Regions from separate parts of the Homo sapiens genome. Here region 2 is linked to region 1. The links come from fine-mapping of genetic effects on plasma protein levels. Region 1 holds a variant in brackets. A gene starts in the other region. All regions are shown on their reverse strands. Region 1 has its middle 20 kb from the start of TNFRSF10D. Region 2 holds the start of TNFSF11 (TNF superfamily member 11).

The links. A credible set is the group of variants that fine-mapping cannot tell apart. PIP is the chance, under the fine-mapping model, that this variant and not a neighbour inherited with it causes the effect. The UK Biobank Pharma Proteomics Project read protein levels with antibody pairs (Olink). The fine-mapping took linkage between variants from a reference panel, not from the people measured, so its PIPs are less certain.
Region 2: TNFSF11 starts here. The variant in region 1 is the best candidate, but not a certain one, in a credible set for the plasma level of the TNFSF11 protein (UK Biobank, PIP 0.51).

What each region holds. Positions count from the first base shown.
Region 1 is chr8:23,180,328-23,188,667 of GRCh38, reverse strand. No RefSeq gene overlaps it. Among named protein-coding and RNA genes, the nearest start is that of TNFRSF10D, 20 kb to the right of the region's middle. The variant G/A (reference allele first, on the strand shown) is at 3,507.
Region 2 is chr13:42,570,674-42,579,013 of GRCh38, reverse strand. It overlaps TNFSF11 (TNF superfamily member 11), which reads right to left and starts at 4,862. Exons shown (of 5, transcript NM_003701.4): 1 at 4,492-4,862. The coding sequence starts at 4,710. RefSeq lists an enhancer at 4,265-4,464 and a silencer at 4,555-4,924.

The DNA of each region.
Region 1 (8,340 bases):
AGCCTTTTACAACAGAGTCACACTGTATTAGTCTGTTTTGCATTGCTATAAAGAAATACCTAAGCCTGAGTAATTTATAAAGAAAAGAAGTTAATTAGCTCACGGTTCTGCAAGCTGTACAGGAAGCATGGCAGCTTCTGCTTCTAGGAGACCTCAGGAAGCCTCCAATCATGGCAGAAGGCAAAGGGGGAGTGAGCTGTCTCACATGGCCAGAGCAGGAGGTAGAGAGGGGAAGGTGCCACACACTTACAAACAACCAGATCTCAGGACAACTCACTCAGTATCAGGAGAACAGCACCACAAAATTGTGGTTAATCATTCATGAGAAGCCTCCCACGACCCAATCACCTCCCACCAGGCCTTACCTCCAACATCTGGGATTACAATTCAACATGAGATTTGGTGGGAACACAGATCCAAACCATATCACGCACAAATTGCAATTACTTCACACTCACGATAACCCATTAATCTGTGAAGGATTAATCTGTTCATGAAGGCAGGGCCCTCATGATGGAATCACATCTTAAAGCCCCTACGTCTGAGTACTGTTACATTGGGGATTTAGTTTTAATATGATTTTCAGAGCAGAAAAACATTCAAACCATAGCAATATGTATTGAATATCTAGATCATTTCCAAATAAGATATTAATATGATACTGAAACATTTATTGCTGAACATAAATTTAGAACTTACTTTGCCTACCTATTACAGAAGAACAAAAGATATTTGGGCCTATTAAACCTTTCCTCTGCCATTTCCTGTCCTGTGTCATAGGACTAGGAATCGTGTTTCTAGAAAGTATGAAATCGTGTGCTTGCAAACTTGGAAGAAAACAGTTCATGACTGCATACCTTCTAGTTCTCTAGTGTTCACTGGAAATTAAAGACACTAAAAGTTAACAATTCTTATTAATTAATCATATTAATGTAATTGGAATTTCTAGAAATATTAGGGGAAGCAACTTTATACGCAAAGCATAACAGAAAAATAAGGTGTATTTTTTCTTTGAAACCTATGAAATATACTGGCCAGGCACGGTGGCTCATGCTTGTAATCCCAGCACTTTGGGAAGCTGAGGCGGTGGATCACCTGAGCTCAGGAGTTCGAGACCAGCCTGGCCAACATGTTGAAACCATGTCTCTACTAAAAATACAAAAATTAGCCAGTCATGGTGGCAGGTGCCTGTAACCCCAGTTACTCCGGAGGCTGAGGTGGGAGAATCGCTTGAACCCAGGAGGTGGAGGTTGCAGTGAGCCAAGATAGCACCACTGCACTCCAGCCTGGGCGACAAAGCAAGACTCTTTCTAAAAAAACAAAAATGAATAAACAAAAAAACTATGAGACAGAAAAGATGGGTTTTTGTTAAAATAAAAAATAATATTGTTTTAGTTTGAAAATTATTCAAAGGTTGTTTCAAAATGAATCAATAAAAAACATAAAACTGAATGGATATTGTCTTAGTCTATTTTGTGCTACTATAACAGAACATCTGAGACTGAGTGATTTACGTAAATATGCAGATTGATTTTTTACTGCTCTGGAGGTTTGGAAGTCCAAGGTCAAGGGGCCCATATTTGGTGAGGGCCTTCTTGTGGCCTCATCACCTGGTGAAAGGTGGAAGGACAAGAGGGCATACATGGGAGGAAGGGAAAATGTGCAAGAGGGGGACAAACTCACTTTTATAACCAATCTACTCCTGCAATAACGAACCCACTCCCACAATAATGTATTAATCCATTCATGTGGGAAGTACCCTCTTGATCTAATCATCCCTTAAAGGTCCCACCTCCCCCCACTGTTGCATTTGGAATTAAGTTTCCAACACATGAACTTTGGGGGCACACAAAAATCACAGCAGAAATAAAAAGTTAGAGAAAACAAGAGAGAATCATATGTGCTCAAGTTAATTAAACCGAATGAATTTATTATAGTACTTTTAAAAATGAGCTTAAATACTGAGTGAACTGACATAAAACTAAAATTTGAATTTCTCTGTTAAAAGGACAAAATAGGCTGGGCGCAGTGGCTCACGCCTGTGATCCCTGGACTTTGGGAGGCCAAGGCGGGTGGATCACCTGAGGTCAGGAGTTTGAGACCAGCCTGGCCAACATGGTGAAACCCCATCTCTACTAAAAATACAAAATTAAACGGGCATGATGGCAGGTGCCTGTAATCCCAGCTACTTGGGAGGCTGAGGCAGGAGAATCACTTGAACCCACAAGGCGGAGGTTGCAGTGACCTGAGATGGGGCCATTGCTCTCCAGCCTGGACGACAGGGCAACACCCCATCTCAAAAAAAAAAAAAAAAGCAATACAGAAGGTTACATGAATGTAAAAAACCTTTTAGATCTCAGTCTTTCTAAACAATTAAAAACCTAATAAAGGCAACAAATGAGTTATTATTATTATTACTATTATTATTATTTTGAGACAGGGTCTTGCTCTGTAGCCCAGGTTGGAGTGCAATGGTGTGATCACGGCTCACTGCAGCCTCCACCTCCCAGGGCTCAGGTGATTCTCCCACATTAGCCTCCCAAGTAGCTGGGACTACAAGCATGTGCCACCATGCCAGCTAATTTTTGTTTTTTATTTTATTTATTTATTTATTTATTTTGAGACAGAGTCTTGCTCTGTCACCAGGCTGGAGTGCAGTGGCGCGATCTTGGCTCACTGCAACCTCCGCCTCCCTAGTTGAAGCGATTCTCCTGCCTCAGCCTCCCGAGTAGCTGGGACTACAGGCACACGCCACCAAGCCCAGCTAATTTTTGTATTTTTAGTAGAGATGGGGTTTCACCATGTTGGCCAGGATGGTCTTGATCTCTTGACCTTATGATCCACCCACCTCAGCCTCCCAAAGTGCTGGGATTACAGGGTAAGCCAAGGTGCCCGGCCTAATTTTTTCTTTTTGGTATTTTTGGTAGCTGTAAGGTTTTGCCATATTGCCCAGGCTGGTCTTGAACTCTTGGGCTCAAGTAATCCACCCACCTTGGCCTCCCAAAGTGCTGGGATTACAGGCATGAGCCACTGCACCTGGCTGGGAATTATTTTGATAAAATGTAAAATATTGTTTCTTAGGCTGGTTACGAGAAAGGGAAAGAAAAACCTGCAGTCTGACTGTTCCTCCTTATGGAAAACCCATCTAGAAAATGCTAGTGTTTTCTATTGATAGACAGTTCAGGACTTTTTGCTTCCTAGTTTTCACTAAAATTTAAAGTTACTAAGGATAACAATTGTAGTTAGTGTATAATTCTGTACATAAGATTTGCCAAAGATGTGTTCTTATTAAGAAAAAGAATAAATTAGTCTAATTCAGAAGTTATCTAAAGGTTAATTCTAATTATGGACTTGCAAAGGTTATTTATTAAACAAGGTAGAAAGGAACCAGTAAGTAGGGGAGAGAGATGTGAAGTAAGTTATGGATTTATGGGAGGCGTGGTGGCTCACTGTGGGAGGCTGAAGCAAGTGGATCGCTTGACCTTAGGAGTTCAAGATCAGCCTGG[G/A]TGACCTGCCAAAAAGCTCATTTCTAACAAAAAAAAAAAAAAAAGGAAAAGAAAAAAATTATGGTGAAGATATATTTTTGGTAATGAAGGTTAGAAAGAAAAGAGAATAACTTTGTATGAGAAAAAGTCTTGTATGATGAATATATGAATATGTTCTAATATAAATTGAATGATTATTAAAACAAGACAGAAAAAAATTTAGGACAAAATAGAAAGTCCTAGTATGTCATCAATGATCCATGCAAGTACATTGTAAAATATTCTTTAAAATCTGATAGAAAATTGAAAAGTTTGGCTAATTGACATTGCTCGTGGTTAAAGCGCTTAGTCTTGATGAAGGTAAAGTAAGAAGTATTGTAAAGAAATACACTGGCAGTTTGCCAATTCTTCTTTAATATAGTTCATCATGAAGTCCTATTTAACAAGGGGCCACATTTCACACCCACGCTTGCATTGCTTTGTTTCACACTGTACTGCTCTTTTGCAGAGATAGTACTAGCAATAAAGTACTTACTGGTCACATGCCTAAAGTGAATTTCTTAATTGCACAAAATATACAGTGGGATTGGTGGACTTAAAGACATTAATTCGTAAACCAGGAATAAAATATTCTTTTTTTTTTTTTTTTTTTTAGGCTCTGGGTAACATGGTAGCCTCCAAGACAACTGAGTAGGAAAAAAAATTGGGGGTTGGTGTCCTGTTCATTTGTTTTTGCTTTTAATTTGCATTTAGCTGCTGTTTGTTTTCCTTGGGGTTTGGCTTATGCATACAATTGTAAGTCCATTGTCGTGTTTTAGTTTCTTTTCTTTTTTTTTTTTTTTTTGAGATGGAGTCTCGCTCTGTCACCAGGCTGGAGTGCAGTGGCGTGATCTTGGCTCAATGCAACCTCCACCTCCTGGGTTAAAGTGATTCCCCTGCCTCAGCCTCCCGAACAGCTGGGACTACAGGTGTGCGCCACCATGCCCAGCTAATTTTTGTATTTTTAGTAGAGACGGGGTTTCACCATGTTGGCCAGTGTGGTCTCGTTCTCTTGACCTCATGATCCACTCGCCTCAGCCTCCCAAAGTGCTGGGATTACAGGCATAAGCCACCGTGCCCGGCCGTGTTTTAGTTTCTAATGGAAGGCTTGTATTTGGTTCTATGAACAGCCATTTTGTTTCCTATGCATTTCCAACCATTTATCATTTGCTCTATTTACCTAAACTTCCTAAGCTACCTTGGTCAAACCTGCAAAATCGAGAGAGCACACCAGCCATTTAAAATTGGATTGGTTTTGCTTAGCTCTGATGATCTAGAGAGATAGAAGAACTTTAAGCTTCCTGTTAAAAAAAAAAGGCTTACAAGTCCAGCAGAAAAAGAACATTATTGATTTTGTTATCTGAAAAAGCAAGTGAGAGGAGAAATGTTCAAATGGCATTTCTTTTCATGGAAATTCAATTCCATCAATTTAAGTTGGTTTCAGATCCTTTTCTTTAGGCAATGAAGAAAAACTGTGATACGGGCACAAAGTTTTAATATTCAGGAAAGATTGGCCTTGCCCTTCAGAAATTTATACTGACTAGAATTTCTCTAAAATTGCTTTAGTTGTGTTTACCATAACTAAGTGACATTCACTTGGGTTAAGCAGTAATTTTAAAAGTGAGACTTTTCTTTTTTTTTTTTTTTGAGATGGTGTTTTGCTCTTGTTGCCCAGGCTGGAGTGCAATGGCGTGATCTTGGCTCACTGCAATCTCTGCCTCCCTGGTTCAAGCGATTCTCCTGCCTCAGCCTCCCAAGTAGCTGGGATTACAGGCACCTGCCACCATGCCCAGCTAATTTTTATATTTTTAGTAGAGATGGGGTTTTGCCATGTTGGCCAGGTTGGTCTTGAACTCCTGACCTCAGTTGATCCACCCGCCTCAGCCTCCCAAAATGCTGGATTACAGGCATAAGCCACTGTGCCCAGCCAACTTTCTACTGATTTTTTATTCCAACCCTTTTATTACATTTAGGCCTTCATGTGTGTACTTGAAAATAAAATATATACAAGTGTTGCACCAGTTTGAAGTTTCTAGTGGTGAAACTTACCTAAGCAGTTGTCTAGATTAACAATCTTGGAAAGGTGTGATGACGCTTTTTTGAAATAGTTGAAATTATTCTGTGCTTGTTCTTAACTCTGTCCCTGTTTTCTTGTACAATATTTAAGAGAAGGAGATTATCCTTATTCTGAATTTCGAAAACAGATATCCGCATTTACCTTATTTTTTTGTTTGTTTTTTGAGACGGAGTCTTGCTCTCTCACCCAGGCTTGAGTGCAGTGGGAGAGTCTCAGCTCACTGCAACCTCTGCCTCCTGGGTTCAAGAGGTTCTCCTGCCTCAGCCTACCAAATACCTGGGATTACAGGCACACACCACCACACCCAGCTAATTTTTGTATTTTTAGTAGAGACAGGGTTTCACCATGTTGGCCAGGCTGATCTCAAAGCTGTGACCTCAGGTGATCCACCTGCCTTGGCCTCCCAAAGTATAATCCCAAAGTGGGATTACAGGCGTGAGCCACCGTGCCTGGTTGTATTTAGCTTTTTTTTAAATAATGGAGAGGAAAGTTAGTTGTCTTACTTTGATAAGTTTGGCATAAAACCTATCACATTTTTGATGCTTTCGGGCACAGTTCTGTCACTAGATTGTTGGCATTAGACATATGCTATAAGTAACCTAACCACTTTAATATAATGGTTTGAAGTGCCGCAGGCAGTAACTACTGGACATGGTTAATCTGTGACATGTTAGAGAGAATGCTAGGACTTCCTGCAGTGTAAAATCCTGTTAACCAATCCTGTGCTGTCAAGTTAAAGGACTTTGACTCCTGGGTCTGAAAAAGGCACCAACTCTTGCTTAATCTTTTTTTTTTTTTTTTTTTTGAGACAGAGTCTCCATTTGTCACCCAGGCTGGAGTACAGTGGCGTCATCTCGGCTCACTGCAAGCTCTGCCTCCCATGTTCACACCATTCTCCTCCCTCAGCCTCCTGAGTAGCTGGGACTGCAGGCGCCTGCCACCATGCCCGGCTAATTTTTTGTTTTTGTATTTTTAGTAGAGACGGGGTTTCACTGTGTTAGTCAGGATGGTCTCGATCTCCTGACCTCGTGATCCGCCCGCCTCGTCCTCCCAAAGTGCTGGGATTACAGGCGTGAGCCCCCGGGTCCGGCCAACTCTTGCTTAATCTTGAACATTGGCACCAGTCAAAGCTTCGTCTTCAGACCCAGGAGAAGGTGACAATCAAAATGAAGTGCCTTCATGAGACACAGGGCAAGAAATTAAAACTATTCAATCCCTTTAGGCCCAGGGACTATTTTGGAAGAGATGGGCATGTGAGATTGTAAGGACTGATTCTGAGGGATAAAATAAGTCTGGAGTTTTTCTACAAATTAAGCATTAAGATCAAAAGCACACTGATGCAAGGCCAGAGTCTGGGCCCCTGTATCAGAATAACAGGGTTTCCTTGGATCACTGATTTGCTCTTTAATAGAAAATTGTAAAACATTATAGAAGGTTTATGAAAATCTTACATTATGGTCAAACTAATTAAAATTAAATAGATTAGTTGCTATGGGTTTATTAAAGTGAGTTTTAACATTAATAACACACCATACAAGGGTAAAAACTTTGTTGTTTCTTTTGAAGAAAACGTTTGTGTAATATTAATAAGAGATGATGTTGCTATGATTCATCTTTGGTGGAAGTGGGGGATGGAGAGAGAAAGATTGTATTTCAGAAGAAAACTGTAGGATTAGATTAACCTGTGATTCCTGAGTGGCCACGAGGTCACCCATGGTGGCCTCCTCAGCTTGAAGCAGCCAGAAAGATCCAGGGCCAGGTTCCCCGGGATTGAGGAATTAATAAGTAGAAAGGAGGGACTGAAACAGACCCAACTGTCTCATAGGATCGATGTTTATGGTTTATTTGAAAAATCATAGAAATTGATCCTCCCAGTGTTAAAACTTGAGAAAGTTACATTAGTCTTATCTAACTTCCTTTCTCAGGAAACCCACCATCAAGCCTCCCAGACAGTGTCAAGGAACTGAAACTTCCTGAAATCATTGCATTTCAACAGTGAAATGCTACACTCTTCATCCACTATGATTGCCTAACCAGCCAGGTGGTTCCCGTTGACCCACTTCTCTTCATTACTCCTCTCTAATTCCTGTTTTTCCACACATGGTTACATTTCTTATCATGACTCTCTAATTCCTGTATTCCTACCTATGGTTAAATTTCTTCCCTGCTATATAAACCCCTACATTTCCGTGGCAATACTCAGTGTCTCAGTGCTTGACCTTCTGTGTTTCAAGCAGCAGGACCTAGACCCATCCTCAGGTGTTTCAGTAACAGTAACAGCTTGCCTATGGACAATTTTCATGCCCGTGGGTATATGGGGTGCTCAGAAAGTTCACCAGAACACCTGATGTAAAGAACACAACAGGAAATTCATCAAAATTGCCACGACTTCTTATCATTCCACCATCTAAAGATGCTTCAAGCCCAACATCTAGAAATCTCAACTGACTGTCCTCTGGACTCAAAAACTGGGCTTGTATAATTTGCTCCAACCATTAACCTTTACTTTTCTTTCGTTTCCGTAGAAATGCCTCTTATTAAATACTGATTGACCACACCTTATAGAGGCCTAACCTAGATGAAGGACCACCTATAACATCATCTCCTAAAATGAGATACAACTGCCTAACTGGACAAAACTATTCTCATGACTAAGAGACTTATTCAATAAGATATGGGTCGCCTGTAATCCTAGCACTTCGGGAGGCTGAGGCGGGTGGATTGTCTGAGCTCAGGAGT
Region 2 (8,340 bases), not on the chromosome of region 1:
CTGCCTGAGAATATGCATTTTAACTAGATCCCAGGTGATTCTTATACACATTAAAGTTTGAGAAGTCATGCTTTAAAATATAGATTTTCTGCTATTGAAACGATTCCAAAGTTCCCTGACACCAATTTTAAAATTGTTTCACAAGTAACATCAATTAGTACAAAGATACTGAAACAGTTAATAATGGTTACTGATTTGATGCAAATAAGTACAATGCAAAGATTTTGTCCCCTTTCTCTTAAAAAAATGCCCACACCCAGATCCCATCTCATTCCTACCCCACCCCTCACTGGCCAATTTCATCAACATCCCTAAGGGAAGTGTCCAATCATTGAACCTCTTCCCAAATACTTTCAATGTGCAGTTGAGAACCACTGTTTTGGAAGGCAGCATTATAGCTAAAATATGTATAAAACCCCATCCACTGTTTTTTCCCAAAAGAAATCAAGAATGCATGGAATAATTGCTTTTAATATACTCATTTATTTTGTTTACTCAAGGATCACACATTAGAAATTTATTTTTAACCTACAACCACATGTCTTTCTCATTCCAATGCCCTTGCAGCTCTCCTTTCCTGAAAATGGAGACTAGGAGAAAACGGAGGAGGAGAGGTTCAGGGTGCAAGGCCAGCCACACACACAGGTAAATGAGGGCCTCTAAGCTGAAGGAACTGCAGAGCAGGGAGGGAGCCAGACTGATGCTGGACCCTCAGCAAATGCCCACGAACTGACTGAACGAATGTATCGCCTACCCAACAACCTACCTACTAGCACACATTAGTCTGGTTGGAGGATTGCATGATTGAAAAATGATACTATTTTAGCCACTAATCTGATAATTTGCATATTACAATCAGAAATGGGCATATCTGTAGTGTTGCAAATCATTAGAAAAGACTTTGCAGTAAATTAGACATGCCAGGCACTGGGCTAGATGCTATGAATAAGGTGGTGTGCAAAGCAAGCAGTCCCTGTCTTCATGGAACTTACACTTCATTGAGGAACACAGAAATTCAACCAAAAGTCACAGTAAACTGAGTAACCAATGAATTCATTGTACTTAGACACGTCTGAAAACATTAAGTAAATCTTGAATATCTGACTTAAAATGGACTGTTAAAATGCATTTGTCAGATAATGTGCCTACGAAATACACTGTCTCATTTTTTTTAACTTCCTTGAAACTTAATCATTTGTAGGGTTAAATGAGGCAGGATGCTTGACGTTTGTGCTACTTCGTTATCTGTGTTTTCAAACAGGCAGTGCACACCTCTACATCAGATTTTCAGTAGTGACTGCTGTCCTGGGTAACAAACAACCAGGGAGGTTGGTTTGTGCATATTGGGGGATCGAGGGAAGAAGTTAAAAGGGCAAAACATCTTCAGTTTTCTGAAAAGTTTATCTTTATAGCTAAACCCTAAGCTTTGAATATGGTTATATGGATGTTAAAGACACATACACATGCACACACACACACAGAGCAACTTTTTGAAAGGGTTTTTATTTTTTTTCTTTGTAAACCAAAGTATGAATACTATGTGGTAAATATATAGCAGAAGCCACACACTATTTTCTCTTTGGCAGGGTGGTGGGGGAAAAGCCAAGCTACACCGGATCTAGTAGATATGTATTTTTTACATCTAGGCACATGCAATCTGCAAACATTTAGGAGGCTGATTCAATTTTATCTATTCAAACATTTAAGAAAACAAAACTTTTTAACCGTCACCGTAATTTTTACACTATTCTGGGCATTCTTTTAAATGCATTTAAAAACTCAAACTGCTTTTCCTTGAGGACTTGCATACCTTCTTTTCTCCACCTTTAAACAAAAACAATAAAACTAATTCGTCATTTTTAACTGTAAACTACAAACATGTTACTAGATAGTTTGTTCTCATTCAAATGCATTTAGAAACCTCAGATAGTTGATTCACAACTTTAGTGGGAATCAAAAAACTACTGATTTATTTGGTACCAAGTTCCAATCCAAAAGAGCCGATATAAGTGAAAATGTTAAATCAGCGGCAAGTCAAATGGAGACTATTCTCTTAGCTAAGACTTTGAAAGAAGATCTCTAACACACATAAAAGGGGAAAGAATTACAGAGTGAACCCCTAGGCACGCATCAGCGCTTCAGCTATTACCAATGTATGGCAAATCTTTTTTCATCTGTAAGCAACCAGAAATTATTTTGAAACAAATTCCAGACACCAAAGCAGTTTTATCTGTAAATATTTCAGAATGTATCTCAAAATGATTAGGACTCCTTTGGGTAACAATTGTAGACACAATATCCAGTAAAATGCATCCCGATCTAGTGGTATATTCATATGAACACATTGTTCCTAATATTTTTTCTTTACTGAAGGAGATAGCCTTTTTAAAATGCAATACAAAATTGGGTTCAGAATAATAGCTAAATTATTTTGCACAAGTCAAAGGAACCGAATTTTCATGGTATTTAAGAAAACCGTACCCAGAAGTCTGATGACATTAACTTCTTCAAAGGTATATTTTCTGGCTAGACTTACTAACTCACACGTTTACTTTGAAAAGGGGTTCTGAATGTTTCACTATCATCCATACAGCATCAAGACTGCTAAAGGATGATGGGAGATCACTGAAAGCCCTGACTCCTCACCCACGGGGACCACCGAGAATTCCTAGGGAAAAGCTGAACAACTCTAACAAGAGCCCAGCAGGTCACTCTTTCCTACACAGCCATGCCACCGATTTCCACAGCTCCTGCCAAGCCAAGCTGTTCATGGTTCCTAGAACTCCTTCATTTCCTACTGCTCGTTCAACATTGGACACTCTCTTCACTATTATGGCAATGAAAATGCCATATCCCGAAGGTGTTAGAAAAGATAAACAGTGGAGAACTACTGCATCTTTGATCCCTTTTCTGATTGTTGCTCTTTTGTTTGACTAAGAATTTTAATGGTTTTATTAGGCCACTCTGCTATCTGGCTCCATGCCCATAGTAAGTGGACACTGTCTGTTGAATAAATGATTCTTAACTCATTCCATCGCAGGTGACGGTGCCACGCACAACGCTGGCACTCCATGCACAAGCACTAAATGGGGGTTATTAACAAAATGCTGGATGAGAAAATGGGTAAGCCATTCTTATTGCAACACACTCCAATGAAAGAAAGACGTTTAGTCACTTTCATATAGATTTGTTATCTGTGTTGCAAGCAAACCACTCAAAAGTTGTCTTTTTAGAAACAACAAAACTCTCAATGAGTAGATTATATTTAATGCAGATTTTCTGAAGTGTGGCTCATTGCATTTCTACTTTAAGTAGGTAATCACACTAGTTCTAGAAAATGCAAACTAGCGGATAATGAATACTTAACAAAAAGCCTATGATTAAAAGTAATGGAGTTCGAGACATTGGCACATGTCAAAAAACCATACAATCCAAGCAATGCCATGTTTTGATGCATCCCGTTTGGTTTAGTAATCACCTTTGAATCTGAAAACGAATGTAGTCCAAACCCAACTTTCTTTTCCCATAAAAAAAAATGCACAGTCAGCCCCCCACTTCCTCTGAGAAAGAGTTCACAGCACCAGACAAGAATATTTGAATGAATCCAACCAACTGCACTGCAATTTCCAAGAAAACACAAGAGCATAAACCACCAGAAAGCATAATATTACAAATTTACCCCTTCCTTCCTACTATCTCTCTGCAGTTCCTAGCCGTCGTGCAAAAAACCTCTTCATCTTTCCGAAGGTTGGTTATTTGCTAGACTGTAGTAACACTGTGCCATCACACTCACCTCGCTTCCTTCCTCCGCCCACATCCCTAGCAGGCACGTGGGGCTGTCCCTCTTCCTTCACCCCCACAGGACAGCGCCACAGCCGCAGAGCCCCCATCCCGAGCCCGCGCCTCTCTGGTCGCGCCGTGTCATTCTGCCCACCCATTGGGCGACCTGGGCACGAGCACCGCGACCTCCCGCTCCGCGCAGCCCTCCAGCACCGTGGCCCCAGCACACCTGCAGAGCAGCCAGGCGCAGGAACCGAAACCCGCCGGGTGGTGGGCGGGAAGGGAAAGGTAGATGCCCAAGTGAAGGCGCTCATCTTTTTTCCTACGTGAACAGAAGTTGATTCTTAACTTCAAGTGAGAAATGACAGGGAGAAAAAGTATGCAATCACTACCAGAAAAGGTGAGAGGCCAGTGTTGTTTCCCAGCGAAGGGACGGGGTGAGATTCAAACCCATCGTCCGGCCAGGGGAGTCCGCCCCCAGAGCACCGAGAAGCTGGGGTGCGTGGGCGGAGAGAGAGCAGGGTGCGCCCGACAGCCCTGCGCCAGGTTGTCCCCAAACTCAACACTTCCTCTCTCCCTTCTGGAGTCACTTTCCCTTCCGGAATATGCAAGCTCTGGGTGGCCCAGCCCTGCCGCCAGACTCAGTTTCCAAGTGCGGGGGAAGGAGATGGGCGCTCTCAGCCGCGATCCCCTGGGAAGGTGGCCACTCACCTGCGCTCTGAAATAGAAGAACAGGGCGACGCTGCAGACAACCTGGCCCAGCCCCAGCCCCAGGAGGGCCACGAACATGGAGCGGGAGGCGGCAGGGGGCTGGTGCGGCGCAGGCGGCGGCGGGGCGTGCAGGGGGCCCTCGTGCGGGGCTCCGGGGCCGCCGCCCATCTCCTCCGAGCCACGCAGGTACTTGGTGTAGTCTCTGCTGGCGCGGCGCATGGCGCTCGGCCCTCTCGCTTCGGAGCTCTCCTCCCTCTCCCGCTCCCTCCCCTTCTTGTCTGCGGCCAACTCCGGAGGCTGCGGCGGAGCCTCGACGTGGGGCGCCGACTTGGAGCCCGGCTTTGGGTCCTGGGGCGCGCGGGCGAGCGGGCAGGGCGCCCGGCAGCCCCAACTCTTATAAACCGCTTGGAGAGCCCTGGCCTCGGGAGCCAATCAGCCCCAGGCGAGGCTGCCTCTTCCACTCCCACCTCTGGCTCCCCTTCCTTCCTTTCGCCCTCCCTCTCTCTCAATCTCTGTCACTGAAGGGCCTCCTTCATGGGGGCCCTCCAAGGAGGAGGCTGGGGGCTACTCCAGTGGTTCCAGACTCCCCTTGCCATCCTCAGCTGTCTTTCTGGAGGTCCAAGAGATGGGTTAAAGAAGACGCAGAGGACACCTTTGCTAAAGGATAAGGATTGCACCTCAGACATTCCTCCTGCATCCATTCTAGTTTGGTAGAGAAGGGACTTCACATCCTGGAGTCTCGGTTTCCTCCTTAGGATTTAGAAAGTTAAATTTGATGATCTCTGAAGACCCTTCCTGTCCAACCTCTCCCCCCAAAGTGCTTCCAAATATAGTTTCTCAAAGTATTTTGGAAGACTTCGAAAATTTCACAATCCCCTTCCCAAATCCCTATTTCTGCATCTTGAAGGTGACATTGAGCGAGGCAGGTCTTGAATGTGGCAGTAGAGAGCCTATAGACACCAACTCTGACTTTATAAAGATGAAAACAGTGCAGAGAAAAGGGTAAAGGGGCGTGTAGCCAGAAGCAAGCATCCGAGGAGGGCTCACCCAACAGTCAGGAAAGAGATGTAACACGAAGCTGATGATACAGTTAAATGTTAGTTTCATTGCTAAAGAAACCTTGCTAGGGCTTTTTAAAAACCTCTATTCAGAACTGTGGCTCTTAGTGAGAAAACAAAAATATTAACATTGCTCACAAATTCTGATACTTCTTCAGAAGGAAGTTGCTGACCAATTTAAACACCCATGAAACTTAGGATGTTTCCACTTTTTTATTAATACAGTTAGCCCACAGTATCCATGGGTTCCACATCTGTGGATGCAATGAACCACAGATCAAAAATATTTGAAAAAAAAAAAAAGGATGGCTGTGTCTGGACTAACATCTGTAGACTTTTTTTCTTGTGATCATTTCCTAAATGATACACAACTAGTTACATAGCATTTACATTCTATTAAGTATTATAAATAATCTAAAGATAATTTCAAGTGTACAAGAGGATGTGTGTAGGTTAAATGCAAATACTATGCCATGATATGTTAAGAAACTTGAACATCCATGGATTTTGGTATTTGCGGGGAGGGGTTTGGTGGTGTCCTGGAACCAGTCTTCCATGGATATCAGGGGACTACTGTGCCTTTTTATTTTGCATCCTCTTTCTGCCTAATTCGCTAATGAGTATTTCTCTAGGCAAGATTTGTGACAAATGACAGGTCTCTGAGTTATTAAAGCATGTGTTCTAAATTGAACACTTAGACCTCAGTAAATGTTGAGGAAGAGTGACCAGGTTGAATTTTTTTTAAAGGCAGCCATACAAAGAAAATGATCTGTTCAAATTCAAAAATGCCTTTAGCATTTATATGTGTATCAATATATAGGTTGGTGGAGAAGGGACAAAAAATTTTCAGACTCAAACATAGAAACAATTGACGTTAATTCTACTCCTTGTAGTCTTTGACCTCTTCCCACTTTTTGTTTGTTAACTTTGGGAAGTAGGTTTATTGTCTCCTCCTCCCCCTCCTCCTCCTCCTCTTCTTCCTCATTCTCTCCCTGCTCCTTGACTCAGGAAATAATTCCATATTTCTTCTTTCTTATAAATATTGATTGGGATCAAAGATTTTTAAAATGTGTTATAACAACTAAACCCACAATGATTTTACTATAGTGTCTTCCATTCTTTTTAATGGGTTTTTATACAACAATGTTTTATACATGTTTTTAATTCCTTGACATCTTGATCCTCAGGTTACAAGAAAGTCCCTCAAATCCCTGAATTATGTTCAGGTATACTTGACCCAGGAGCTTCATATATGGGACCGTATGTTACATTCCTACAGAGTTCTTCATATGACATTTCTACTAGTACTCCAAAAATGTCATCCCACTATCTTCTGGCTTCCATAGGCTGTATTAGATACTCCACTGTCAGTCTACCTGCTGCTGTTTCACAGGTAATGTATCTTTCTTGCCTATGTATTTACTTATTCCTTTGTCAACATTCACTCCCCAACTAATAGATAAACTCCATATGTTCAACGACTCTTGCTGTATTATTCACCTCTGTAACATTCACCATTTCCTAAAAATGTTGCCTGCTATAGTAGGTGCATGGTAAATACTTGCTGAATAAAATTTGAGCAAAGAAATCTTCAAAGCCTCTGCCAGTCTCCCAGTCTAAGCCATGCTATATCTTATCAGAATGAATCACACTTGCCCCCTGAAGAATTCTGTGCACACTGATCAGGATTTTCTTCTAAAAGCAAAAGTATATGTCATTTCCATACCTGCAATTCTTTGGTGGCTTCTAAGTGTTGTTGATAAAGTCGAAACTCTGAAGATTAAAAACCTTCAATAGGCCAGGCGCAGTGGTTCACTTCTATAATCCCAGCACTTTGGGTGGCCGAGGCGTGAGGATCACTGGAGCCCAGGAGATGGAGAATAGCCTGGGGAACATAGGGAGACCCTATCTTTACAAAAAATGAACAAATTAGCCAGGCATTTTGGTGCACATCTCTGGTCCCAGTTACTCAGAAGGCTGAGATAGGTGGATTGTTTGAGCCCAGGAGGTCGAAGCTGCAGTAAGCTACAATCATGCCACTGCACTCCAGCCTGGGAGACAAAGCAAGATTCTGTCTCAAAAATTAAAAAAAAGATAAAAATAAAAATAAAACTCTCCAATAGTCCTTCACAAGCTGGCTCAAGACTCCTTTTCTACATCAGCTTCAAATACTACCTAACTGGAGCGCTCATCTCTCCAACTTCTACACCTGGAGGACTCTCCCACTTGTCTTTCCTTTCTCAGCTCAAATGTCGCCTCTCCAGAAGTCTTTCTCAGCTCTCCTCACCCAGGTGGCTCCCTCTGTTTTATGCTCCCATGGCATCCTTAAATTCTCCTGTCATGTCACTCATGCATTTCTTCATTTACTCTACAGATATATTAGTGAGAACCCACTATATGCCAGCACTGGGCTAGAAACATGGTGATCAAGATGGAACATGGGGCTTACACCCTAGTGGGAAAAAAAAAAAGATTCAACAAATCATCACACAAATCACTAACAAAACCGTGATTAGTACTTTGAAGGCAAAGTGCAAGTACAATGAGAATCTTATAATACTAGGGTCTAGACCTATGTGGGGAGTCAGAGAAAACTCTTAGTACAATGCAAATGTGGGGAGTCAGCGAAAGCTCTTAGGCAAAGATAATGCTTTAAACTACTACTAGATAATGATTTAAACTACTCCCAGAGTAAAAACCACCCAGAGAGAAAGTGGCCAGGAGCTATCCTAAGCTGAGAGTGATTGTATTATTATAACAATTTGTTTAACATGTCTTCCTAATTGCATGT